Linked DNA regions of Homo sapiens: region 2 is linked to region 1. A link means that fine-mapping ties the variant in region 1 to the expression of a gene that starts in the linked region. Tissue or cell type: whole blood. Region 1 holds a variant in brackets; the other region holds the start of a gene. All regions are shown on one strand. Distances are between the middles of the regions.

The links. PIP is the estimated chance that this variant, and not a neighbour inherited with it, causes the effect.
Region 2: PARP4 starts here. The variant in region 1 is fine-mapped to the expression of PARP4 in whole blood (INTERVAL, PIP above 0.99).

The regions. Positions count from the first base shown.
Region 1 is chr13:24,471,857-24,478,621 of GRCh38, forward strand. It overlaps PARP4 (poly(ADP-ribose) polymerase family member 4), which reads right to left. Exons shown (of 34, transcript NM_006437.4): 13 at 6,237-6,420; 14 at 5,845-6,001; 15 at 3,616-3,740. Among named protein-coding and RNA genes, the nearest start is that of PARP4, 38 kb to the right of the region's middle. The variant G/T (reference allele first, on the strand shown) is at 3,209.
Region 2 is chr13:24,510,261-24,517,025 of GRCh38, forward strand. It overlaps PARP4 (poly(ADP-ribose) polymerase family member 4), which reads right to left and starts at 2,518. Exons shown (of 34, transcript NM_006437.4): 1 at 2,446-2,518. All of the region lies in intron 1 of LOC105370117 (a long non-coding RNA gene), which reads left to right. RefSeq lists a silencer at 2,516-2,675.

The DNA.
Region 1 (6,765 bases):
TTATTAGATTGAATAGCCACTACACTGATGGGCAGATATTATTATTTCCATTTTACACATGAGGAAAACGAGGCAAAAGAGTTAAGTAACTTTCCCAAACTCACAGCACTAGAAAGAATAAACAAGAATTCAAAGCTAAGCCTTACAAACTCCGGATCCTTTGCTTTGTATGATCTACCATGCTGCACTATGGTGTACTGGTTAAGAATCTGGACGCTGGAATCAGAATGATCTGAGTTCAAATTTGGGCTTTATCATATTGTTTGTCTCTGGGCCTCAGCTTCTTCTTCCAAACAATGGGCATAATTATAGCACTTGGCATGGAGTCTGAGAGAATTAAGTACTGCATGTGGAAAACTCGGCTGAGGGCCTGACTCTTAGGAAATGGTAACCATTATGTTTACAGATCCTAAGTGGTGCCAAAGGGATTGGTGGAAATGGAACATGTCCCATGAGCCCACAGCTGGGTCTTTTCAAAGTCTATGACGTTGCTCTGAGCTGCCTTGAGGATGTGTGTATGGGTCAGAGTGGGCCCAGGGGTGGAGGTCAGCTATATCCAAACTGCTCTTCTCACCCAACGCCCCGTCTCCCCAGATTAAGGTGATCACTGAAATGGAACTAATTTTCCTCTACAGGGATCAGAACATCATGGCACTGTACTTGAACGTTCTTAATCTCCTCAAAGGCCTTTATGGTTGTTCAATGCAATCTTCAGAGTCAGAAGCTGATCATGAGGCCAAATCTTAGCAAACCAATTCAATTTTAGAAAACCAAAAACTTAACTTTCCAAGCTCTACCACTGCATCTGGCCACTTGGCACCCCTGAAACGCTGCCTTCCATCCTGTGACTGTGGATGATGAACCTGCTGCGAGCTCCTGGCTGCGGCCCCAGCACCCGCATTAGATAACCCTCCTGTGATGCTTGTCTTTTGCTTTGACCAGTTCTTACTCACTTGGTATTTAATGCTCTTTCTGAGCTTCAGTGCAGATAATTTAATAAGGTGGGATTTTCTCCTTCTCTTTCAACACCCTGAGTTTTTTTTTTTTTTTTTTTTTTGAGACAGGGTCTCACTCTATCACCCAGGTTGGAGTGCAGTGGTGCGATCTTGGCTCATTGCAACCTCTGCCTCCTCCAACCTGCCCTCCTGTGACTTTGCCCATTCTAGTAATGGCAAGCCATCCTCCCATCTCGACCTCCCAAGTAGATGGGACTACAGGTGTACGCCACTGCGCTCAGCCAATTTTTGTAGAGATGGGGTTTCTCCATGTTCCCCAGGCTGGTCTGGAACTCCTGAGCTGAAGCAATCCTCCTACCTCAGCCTCCCTCCCAACGTCCTGGGATTACAGGCATGAACCACCGCACCGGCCACCACCCTGGTATTTATGATAGCAAAATGTGTATATTTTAGTAGCTAACAAAGGTTTGGGAGAACAGTAGAATTCATCTCTCTCTGGGAAGAAAGTGCTTTGAGCACTGCCTGGCACAACATAAGGGCAATATACATGTTTGTTACAAAGAAATGTTAAATAAATAAGGGCATAATAAAGTTCTAAATTGAGTCTTTGGAGATATTTCGATAAACGTAAAATTCAGAACAGTTTACCAGGAAAGTCTTTTCAACAATGTTTCCTATTTATGCAATAAAACATAGAGAAGGGTATAGAGAAGGAAGCAGTTCCAGCAATTCCCCTCTCCCAGGTCGCCAGGTTTCCCTCCTGCGCTGACTCCCACACATGCTGTTGTTTCTTGCATCTTAAAATGAGAAAGAAAATACTCAACCCCACTTCTCTTCAGCTGCTGTCTCATCTTCTCTCCTCTGTCTCCCAGTTCTTCCTCCCATTCCCTCTTGAACTCACTCTGATCAGCCTTTCACCCCCACCACACCATCAAAAGGCAAAGGTCACCAACAATCTCATTGCTAAATCCAGTGATCAGGGCTGGGTTGTTATTCATGAGACCCACCAGCCTCCCCTCCCTGTTCAGCTGTCCTCGTGTGTCTCCACAGCCGCTCCCTCCTGGTCTCTGTGGCTGACTCAGCCTCCTCCCCTACGTCTCCACGTTGGCCTCTGTGCTCTACTGATTCTCTGGGTGTTTAATCTGGGCTCATGACTTTAAACACTATGTGAATGCTGCTGACTCCCCACTTATAAGTCCAACTTGGGTCTCCTCCCTGGTCCTATGTAGTCACAAGACCTACGTGGCCAAAGATAAACTCCTGATGGCCCCCAACCTGCCCTCCTGTGACTTTGACCATTCTAGTAAGTGCAAACATGATCCTTCTAGTTATTCAGGGCAAACACTCTGCTGTCTTCCTGGGCCGCTGTCTTTCTCTTGTGTCCCGTCCCCACCAGCAAATCTGATTGGCTCTGCTCTCAGGCCTTGGCGGACTCCATCACTTCCTACACCCCCACTGCAAACCTTCTTCTCCACATCACCAGGTCCCTTAACTGAATTGTCAATCGTCTCCTCTATGTGATGTGACGTTGGGCCTGCTGTGTCCCCTTCAGGGCTGAGACTGCTAGGAGTGTCACCTGTGGGGCGCCTCCCCAGGAACCATCCTCAGCCAAAGACAAACTGCCTTAGCCAAGGTTCTGACCCCTCCCCGGAGCAGCCCACATCCCAGGACTGGCCCCAGTGGGGCTACAAAGCCCGGCCCCCTTGCCTTGATTCAGACCTTCTCTCAAGGACCACTCTGGCCCAGAGCTTCCCCCAAGATCATCTGAGGACTCTGTTGTCTCCTCGGCCACGTCCTGCCTCCCTCACTCCCTCACAGGTGCGGCTCCCGCAGGCACAGTCCCACAGGCTTCCTGAAAACAAATTCCATCCAGAGTCTGCTTTCTAGGGAACTTGACCTAACATTTCTCCCACTGGGCCTCTTCCTACTGTTCCCAACATGGTGGCCAGAGTGAGCTGGTTAAAACAGGTCTGTTCATGTCATTCCTCTGCCAAACATCTAGAAGCTTCCATTTCACTCAGAGTCAAGGACAGCATGACCTGTGTACTGATGTGAGAGCCCCTCACCTCTCTGACTCAGTCCCCATGCACTCTCCCCTTTCCACCCCACTGCAGCCACAGTGCATCTCCTTGGCGCGCCTGGGCCAGATCAGCCTCCTTCCTACCTCTGAGCCTTGGCATGTGATGTTCCCGCTGCCTGGAATAAGCATCCCCTGACGTCCACACAGTTTAGCCCCCACTTCCTTCAGGTCT[G/T]TATGCAGATGTCACCTTCTCAGGGAGGCCTCCATGGCCATTCTGTTTACAGGTTCAAAGCCCCTGTCTTTCACAGCTCCTATCTGTGAAAGCAGCTCCTCCTGCTTTCCTTTTTCTCTTTAGCACCTGTCACCACCTAACATGTTATGTGTTTCACTCTTTCATCATGATTATTGCCTACTCCCCCACACAGTGTGTGCTCCACAAGGGCAGAGCTTTTGTATTGTGCACTGCTGGATGCTCAGAGCCTAGCTAGTCCCTGGCATGGAGTGCTCAGTGAATATCTCTTGAATAAAATACATTTTAGAAATCTATCTATTCCCTTCAGTTCATGCAACTGCAATCAAATTCTCATGTATGGTTTACATCCATGTAGTTTAAGTGTCATAAAGCCACAGACAACATACCTGGGCTACAGTGTCTATGATTCTCCCTTTGATGTGGACATCCTCCAGAGGAACCAAGTTCCCAGAGGCATCCTGGAGGCCGGCCTTGGTGCTGCTGGAAGTTTTGGCATCTGGTAACTGGTAATCTAAACGTTAAAAATGTTACTATTAGCTTTCAAAACCATCCCTGTCTATTTTTGTTATCTTGATCTTTATTCCTTCTTCAAGCCTTCATGCATTTTATTTTAGGGAAAATGGGCAAATAGCATTTTATGATTTTCAATAGCCAATTCTGAAAAGCAAGTGAACCCACATGAGAAAAATGAGAGGTGCCTTCTGCCTTTTTTTTTTTGAGATAGCATGTCACTCTGTCACCCAAGTGGGAGTGCAGTGGCACAATCTCTGCTCACAGTAGACCCCTCCTCTCTGGCTCAGGTGATCCTCCTGTCTCAGCCTCCCGAGTAGCTGGGACTATAGGCATGCACCACAATGCCCAGCTAATTTTTTGGTATTTTTTGTAGAGATGAGGTTTAGCCATGTTGTCCAGGCTGGTCTTGAACTCCTGGACTCAAGGGATCTACCTGCCTTGACCTCCCAAAGTGCTGGGACTATGGGCGTGAGACACTACACCTGGCCTGCCTTTTTTTTTGTTTTTTAAAGACCCTTCAGCTTAAATTTTTTTTTCTTCTTTTCTTTTTTTTTTCTTTGGTAGAGATTGGAGTTTCACTATGTTGCCCAGGCTGGTTTTGAACTCCTGTGCTCAAGTAATCCTCCTGCCTTAGCCTCTCGAGTAGCTGCGACTACAGACATGTGCTCTTCTGCCTTTTTAATGTAGAGACTGTGGGGTGTCCTCCTGAAAACACAGCATTACTTGACATACATTTAAACATACACACAAATACACAGAGGTCTTCAGACTGTCTGAAGTGTGGCTGAAGCCTGAATCCAGGTGTCTGCATTCCCTGGCTTATAGTGTGGAAGGGCTCGGTCACTATTATTTATGGTGCCACACAAGCATTTTGGGATGGCATCAAACAACGTAGATTTTCAATCCAAGGAAGACTGAATCAACTCCTATGGCAGCATATTGAAAAATGTACACATCCTATTCTAAGTGGCACAAACATACAGATAAGGTTAGGAAATATAAATACATATTGTCTTGCCAGATATTTCACTTAATGACTCCCAGAGAAAAAACTGGAGTCACCCCTGAACACACATGAACTCATGCGTTTCTGACAAAAAATAATTTGAGCATGGTCAAAAATGTTAATGTGTTCTTACAGTCCTACTAATTAATACTGTAATTGTTTGGCCTCATGATACTCTGAGAAGTGAATATCCTCTTGTATGCTCGCACTACTATGGCTAACACACGCACCACACATGGCAATTTACTCAGTGCCTTCAATTTCCCCTTCAGCCCTTACAGCAATTCTGTCATGCGGGTACTGCTCTCATTCCCATCGGAGAGAAGGTGGAGCGCAAAAGGTCATGCAGTTTCAAAACTGCAAGGTGGCAGGGCGACACTCAAACCCTGGGCTTCCTGGCTCTACAGCGGCTCTGCTGTCTGCTCTCCCCACCCCATTACACTTTCTGCACCATGACATCTTAGCAAGGTTCCACAGGTTTTAGCCTTGGCTATTCCTGAAGCGAATAAGCTCAACTTCAGTGTGTTAATGAAGTCACATGGAATTTCTCAATCATCCTAGTTGTTATGTACGCAAGATAAAAAAGGAAATGAGGCTGGCCATGGTGGCTCATATCTGTAATCCCAGCATTTTGGGATACCAAGGCAGGAGGATCGCTTAATGCCAGGAATTTCAGGCCAGCCTAAGCAACATAGTGAGAATTTGTCTCTAAAAAAAAAAGTCACGGATGGTAGTCCTAGCTACTCAGGAGGCTGAGTCAGGAGGATCATTTGAAACCCAGGAGTTTGAGGCTGCAGTGCACTTTGATCACACACTGTACTCCAGCCTGGGGGACAGAGTGAGACCCTGTCTCAAAAAAAAAGAAATATATATATTTTAAAATTAAGTGCTTTATTTTGATACTAGGCAGAGGGGTTTGACTGATGTTAACACTGAGAGAAATTTGTGGGAAACAATTTTGAGATTGAAAGGAAATGAAATACTTATGGATGAGGTCATAGATATAACAAATGCAAATATACATTCCATTGAAAATATAACATTTGAGGTCTATAAATATAATAACATAAAACAGCATTCAAGAAAATTGTCCTACCTTCAACCTTTGAAAAATTTGAAAACTCAGGTCTGTATTCCTCTAATTCAGTATGATCACTAGGATGAAAGTCCTTTATCTGATCTCCAGGCATGGAAAATTTAATAATATATTTCATTTTAACCTGATTGGTTTTATAGACAACAAATTCATCATCCTAGAGCAAACAGAAATCAGTAGGTGATTAACAACAGAAGCAACAAAAAACCTGTATTGGCAGATGTTTTCATAAAAGCATGTTTGCTAATTTAGAAAATGTTGAATTAATTCATGCAGTAAATATATAACAATTATTTAAACTTAAGCATATTTAATGAAAATAGGAGCAAAAAACTAAGGCCTTTCTTTGAGCATTCAAGACCCTCTTTGCTTCTTCCTTGAAATAAAAATACCTCAAAGTCTGTGGTGACAGAGGCTGTTTGCGAAACTCCATGCACACTGTCGTAGCCTGGTGGTGCTTCAGTTAAGGAAAAGTCCTTCTCATGTAAGTCCATACACTTTCCGAGGGCTACGTCACAAATGAGCAGGAGTCTGGTGCCATCTGTCTCTCCCGGGTGTGAGTACTTGATACTTGTACTACATGCGAAAGGAAATAAACACATATTTACAGCTTAGAGTGACTTGTCAATAACATACTATTGAAAAGACTTTCCTGGTAAACTGTTCTAAATTTTCCTATTATTGAAATATCTCCAAAGACTCAATTTAGAACTTTATTATGCACTTATTTATTTAATATTTCTTCTTTTTTTTTAGACAGAATTTTGCTCTGTTACTCAGGCTAGGGTGCAGTGGCATGATCATAGCTTATTGCAGTCTCCAACTCCTGGGCTCAACTGATCCTCCTGCCTCAGCCTCCTGAGTAGCTGGGACTATAGATGTGCACCACACCTAGCTAACTTTTAAAATTTTCTGCTAAGA
Region 2 (6,765 bases), 38 kb after region 1:
GTGTTCACTATTGGCCGGGCGCGGTGGCTCACACCTGTAATCCCAGCATTTTGGGAGGCCGAGGCGGGCGGATCACGAGGTCAGGAGATCGAGGCCATCCCGGCTAAAACGGTGAAACCCCGTCTCTACTAAAAATACAAAAAATTAGCCGGGCGTAGTGGCGGGTGCCTGTAGTCCCAGCTACTTGGGAGGCTGAGGCAGGGGAATGGCGTGAACCCGGGAGGCGGAGCTTGCAGTGAGCGGAGATCCCGCCACTGCACTCCAGCCTGGGCGACAGAGCGAGACTCCGTCTCAAAAAAAAAAAAAAAAAAGTGTTCACTATTAGAAATACACTTTAATTAAAATGCTTGTACATATATTTTTTTGCCACATCTCTGTCATAGTTTCCCTAGAGTTGATGGCCAGAAATGGAATTACTGAATCAAGGAGTATAAACATTTTTTAGCCTTTTAAAAATTGTGGTACAGTTTTTAAAACTGTGTGTACAGTTCAGTGGCATTAAGTACATACACATAGTTGTGAAATCAAAGTATAAACATTTTATTTTATTTGAGACAGGGTCTGGCTCTGTCTCCCAAGCTGGAGTGCAGTGGTGTGGTCACTGTCACAGCTCACTGCAACCTCGACCTCCCTCCCAGCAATCCTTTCACCCGGCCTACTTAGTAGCTGGGACCACAGGCCTGCACCACCATGCCCAGCTAATTTTGGTAGAGACAGGGTTCTTACTATGTTGCCAAGGCTGGTCACAAACTCCTGGGCTCAAGCCATCCTCCTGCCTCAGCCTCCCAGAGTGCTGGGGTTACAGGTGTGAGCTGCCACGCCCGGCCCAGAGTAAAAACATTTTAAACATAAATCTGCGGTCTGTTCTTAGCACCTGCGGCTGCGTGGGAGGTATGGAAAGGCGCACTTTGGGTTTCGTGAAATCTCAAGTCAGGTCTTGACTTCTCTCTTTCCACAGATTCATCTCTAGTCTCTGTAAAATGCCAGCCCTCTTCTGGGTTAACAGCGCCTAACCGACATGCGCCACTAGTTCTTCCTTGTTTCAAAGTGTTCTCTAAACACAGAGTTAGTTCATGTTTTCATCAGCGCTGATTACGTACATATGAGATGTGGCGGACACTGGGCTAGGGGCTGGTTATTCTCTAAGGCAAATCTGCACAGTCACTCCAGCCTGTCCCCCTTCCCAGCTTCTTCCCCAAATAACATTCACAGAGTGTCTTCCACCCAAAGACAGCAGGGAACAGCCCCGATTCCTAAGAAACCCTCAGCGCGCCTCCTCACAAACTCTTGGCTGCTCCATAAACCATTGGTGTAGGTGGAATCAAGTGGCTTCCTGCTTCACAGGTCTTCGTCTTTACCACTGGCATTTCCTCCTCTCGGAAAACCCTGAGGAGTCCCTTTCTGGGCAGTCTTGATTCTACAGCCTCCGCCTTCCGAAGTGTGTGAGTCAGCACACGCTAAGATCACTTTTGATATACAGTGGGCATTCAATAAAAGCTTGCTTACTAAAAACTCTCACGTATCCATTAAAGCCCAGGATTACAGAAAAGCCTTCTGACACTATTTGCATTTTGGACTCAAATGGCATCAGTAATGCACCTCCCTAATGGGTTTATTAAACCCTTAAACAACAAAGGTACTACTTTTATTTCACTCCTACATGATATACAGTAGCTCTACGCACACAAACAAGACCTAATGTTTACTTAATAAATGATAAAGTCAGATGTAATGAGTCTGCAACACGCACATCTCAGAGCGAACTTCCCCTTTATCATAGCACTATGCTTGGATATTGTCATATAATTGTTGTCATCCAGCAGTCCAGAATTGAAAGTGCTTGGGCTTGAATATTTAGCAGCGCCTTAGTTTTCTAGAACCTGTGATCTACCAACTCGATCCCTGGGTGAACCATTCGGCCCTCCTAGCAGGAATTACTTAACTGAGTTAGAGGTTTTCAACTTTGGACCTCAACAAACACATTGTTTCTATCACGGTGTTCCCAATGACTCACGAGGTCAGATAGTACTTCCTGATTACTCACCAAACCACCTTACTTTTTGCACAATTCGAAACCTAACTTTAGGAAAGAAGGCCGTTTGGCATACTGGAAACAAGAAACAACGCGTGCTACTGCGAACCGCACCGCACGGGGTGCGGAGACTTGGTGTGACTGTCGGCTCCGGTGGGCGCCCCCCACCGCACCCGGTTTCTCGTCACCAGGGCTGCGCCGCGGGGCAGAGCGGAACGACCGCAATATCCCTCCCCGAGGGCGCTGGCTGCACTAGCTAGTCCACTCCCGAGCCTAGCAGCGCCGTCAGGCCCACAGCGCCAACGCCGCGCAGGGCAAGGGTGCAGCCACTGGCGGGAAAGTAGTACGCGGGCCACTTCCTGGCTAGGACTACAGGGACCTTTGCAGCCCCCCACCCCGCAGCGCCCACGCACCTGCCTAGAGGATCCAGCTAGCTCCGGACGCTCCCCGATTCCGCGCTCCTTGCTCGCGGTACTTCCGTAATCTAGGCTCTCCCTGCCCCCGGGGCTGGGCGGGCGCCACTGCGCCGGAACCCCGCCCCGCACCAGGCGGGCGCAGCGTCCCAAGCAGGGACGATAGCCGGAACGCGCCCGGAATCGGGTCCGCCAGGTGGGGAGCGGGTCCCCGGCCTCTGGCGGGGTTTCTCTTCCAAGATCAGCCGGAGGGTTCAGGGCTTTCAGTTTCATATTTCAGGAGGGATTTTGTCAATGAGGATTAATACAAAGCTCGGCTTTGAGAGAGGTGGGTGGATGGTGCTGTCCTTTAACTGAGAAATGGAAGGGATTCACAAGGCCGGGAAAGAAGAAAATTTCGGGAAAGTTCGTGGAAACAGGAGAGTGAGATAATAAATTTACTTTAAGCCTTCCTGCGTTTGAAATTCGTGACAGTGTAACTAGTTGGAAATATATTTATCTGCCATTCAAGAGAGGCAGGGGGCTGGAGATACAGATCTGAGATTCACTGAAATGGGAATAAAGCAATGGGGAAGATTCAGATTTTTAGGATACTGAATAAAATGAGAATAGAAAGGATAGAGTAGAGAATACAGTGGAAAGGGTATGGGGTTGAATCCTGACTCCACAATTTATTACCAAGGGGGCTGGGGACAAGGTAATTTACCAAGTTTCATCATTACAACCTACTCTATAGGGTTGTCTAAGAAACAACAAGAGATTCTGGGGGAGGAGAGAGACTGATTCCTAGAGTTACCACATCGTAATGCTCAAAATGTCCAATCTTCAACAAAAAATTATGAGGCATGCAAAAAAAAAGGCGAAAAAATGGCCAATTCAAAGGAAAAAAGAAATGAACAGAAATTGTCCCTGAGCTGAGGAAGCACAGACATAGGAATTATTAGACAAATACTTCAAATAAACTGTCTTAAACATGGACAAAAAGTGAAAGGAAACATAGAAAAATAACTGAAAGAAACAACCAGGAGAACAAAGTCTCAATAAATAGAGAATATGCAATAGAAGATGTGCAAATGGTCAACAAGCATGAAAAAAAGCCCAGCATAACTAATTATCAGAAAAGTGCAAATTAAAACTGCAATGAGATACCATCTTACACCAGTCAGAATGGTTATTATTAAAAAGTCAAGGAACAACAGATGCTGGCAAGGCTTTATTGAAAAGGAAATGCTTATACACTGTCAGTGGGAATGTAAATTAGTTGAACCACTGTGGAAACCAGTTTGAAGATTTCTCAAAGTGCTGAAAACAGAACTGCTATTCAACCCAGCTATCCCATTACTGGGTACATATTCAAAACAAGAGAACTCATTCTACCAAAAAGACACATGCACTAGTATGTTCGTCACAGCACGCTTCACAATAGGAAAGACATGGAATGAACTTAGGTGCTCATCGACAATGGACTGGATAAAGAAAATGTGGTACATTTGCACCATGGAATACTACGAAGCCATAAAAAGAATGAATGGAATCATGTCCTTCACAGCAACGTGACTGCAACTGGAGGCCATTGTCGTAAGTGAATTAATGAAGGAACAGAAAACCAAATACCACATGTTCTAATTTGTAAGTGGGAGCTAAACACTGGGTACTCATGGATATAAAGATGGCAACAATAGACACTGGGGACAACTAGACAGGGAGGGAGGGGGAGGGGCAAGGGTTGAAAAACTATTGGGTACTATGCTCAGTCCCCGGGTGAGGGGCTCAGTCATACCCCAAACCTCAGCACCACGAATTATATGTAGGTAACAAGCCTGCACATGTACCCTCTGAATCTAAAATAAAAGTTGAAATTATTTAAAAAACAAATAAGGAATATTAATAAAGAGATAGAAATTATAAAAGGAACCAAACACATTTTGGAACTGAAAAGAACCAAAAAGAAATTGTGTAGTTAAAAAGTACAATAGGACCAGGCATGGTGGTTCATGCCTGTAATCCTAGTGTCTTGGGAGGCCAAGGCGGGAGGATCGCTTGAGACCAAGAGTTTGCCTTGGCAACATAGGGAGATCCCCTCTCTACAAAAAAATTACAAAATTAACCGGGCATGGTGGTGCATGCCTGTGGCCCTAGCTACTCAGGAGGCTAAGGCAGGAGGATCACTTGAGCCAAGAAGTTCATGGCTGCAGTGAGCTAAGATCACACTCCTGCACTCCAGCCTGGGTGACAGAGCAATATCTTGTCTCAAAAAAAAAAAAAAGAAGAAGAAAAGAAAAAGAAAAAAATACAATAACTTAAATGAAAAATACACAAGTGATGCTCCAGAGTAGATTTGAGCAGGTAAGAGAAGGAATGAGCAAACTCGAAGATAAAACTGTTGAAATTATTAACTCTGAGGAGCAGAAAGTAGAAGAATGAAGATCAAAGTCCAAAAGATTTGTGGACACCATCAAGTGTATCAGCATATGCATAAAGGGGGTCCCAGAAAGAAAGATGAGGGTGAAGGTGGCAGGAAGAGTATCTGAAGAAACAGTGGCTCCAAAGTCCCCAATTTGTTAAAATACATAATGTAACACTTCAGAGAAGCTCCATGAACTTCAAGTATGATAAACTCAAAAAGTCCACAATAGAGTTATATTAATAATCAAACTGTTGAAAGCCAAAGACAGAGAGAAGCTTAAAAGCAGCTAGACAGAAATGATCACTACATACAAAGGAACTTGAATAAGATTAACAGCCAATCTATTACCATGGGAGCCAGAAGGCAGTGGGATGATATAAAGTGCTGAAAGAAAACAAACAAACCGGCAACCATGAATTCTATATCTGTTAAAACTCTCCTCCAAGAAATGATAGGCCAGGCACGGTGACTCATGCCTGTAATCCTGGCACTTTGGGAGGCTGAGGCAGGTGGATTGCTTGAGCCCAGGAGTTCAAGACCAGCCTGGGCAACATGGTGAAAACCCATCTCTACAAAAAATGCAAAAATTAGCCAGGTATGGTGGCATGTGCCTGTCATCTCAGCTACCTAGGAGGCTGAGGCAGGAGGAACACTTGAGACCTGGAGGTTGAGGCTACAGTGAGTTGTAATTGTGCCACTGCCCTCCAGCCTGGGTGATAGAGTCATCCCATCTAAAAAAAATGTGTAATAAAAACCTATAGAATGCTTGAAGAACCATCCAACTACTATATAATTATTGCTATTTTTGAAGAAAGCAAAAATACAGGTGTGACAACTATTATGGTATTGTTCTGCTCTTATTACAACAAAGATTCAAGCTAGAAATCCTTTACTATCTATTCAACTTCATTCATCATTGGTCAGGCATTCTAGAATGTAGTGGATGTGATAATCCCTTTGCTGTATAGACTCATTAGGTTTCCAGGATGTTTTGTTGTAAGTCCAATGCACCAGCAATAGATTTACCTATATCAAACTGCCAAGATTTAAAAAATGTCTCTCAGCACCCAAGGTTGTTGTTAGAAACTTTCCAGAAGTAATTCTGGAAATCTGAGGTTTCAGGCCTTGGTGAAGAACTCCTTCACTCTTCCTGCAGGTGAAGGAGGATGTGGGTTTTCTTGGGTTTGCCTAGAGGCCAGACACATGCATCTCTCAGTGCATCTTCCCAACCTGTTAGAATTCCCCTTTCTGGCCTGGAAGACATGGGCTTGGGGATCATCCCTTGGCCAGGCTAGCACTTATGTTCTCTCTTTTTTCTTTTTAAGAGTTGGGGGTTTCACTCTGTCGCCCAGGCTGCAGTCTAGTGGTGTGATCATAACCTTAAACTCCTGGGCTCAAGTGATCCTCCTGCCTGAGCCTCCCAAGTAGCTAGGGCTACAGGTGCATGCCACCATGCCTGGCTAACATTCAAACTTCTGGGCGCGAATGATCCACTTCAGTGTTTCAAAGTGCTGGGATTACAGGTGTAAGCCACTGCACCTGACATGTCCTCTCTGGACAGAGTGGACACTTGCTACCATCAGACCAACAATGAAAAGTTGTGAACTCTTGGCTGGGTGTGGTGGCTCATGCTTGTAATCCCAGCACTTTGGGAGGCTGAGGCGGTGGATCACTGGAGGTCAGGAGTTTGACACCAGCCTAGCCAACATGGTAAAACCCCATCTCTACTAAAAATACAAAAATTAGCTGGGCATGGTGGTGCACATCTGTAGTCCCAGCTATTCAGGTGGCTGAGGCAGGAGAATCACTTGAACTGGGGAGGTGGTGGTTGCAGTGAGCTGAGATCATGCCAGAAGGAAAAGTCAGCCTGTATTCCATCAACCAATGATACCAAAATTTTAAGGATAATCTAA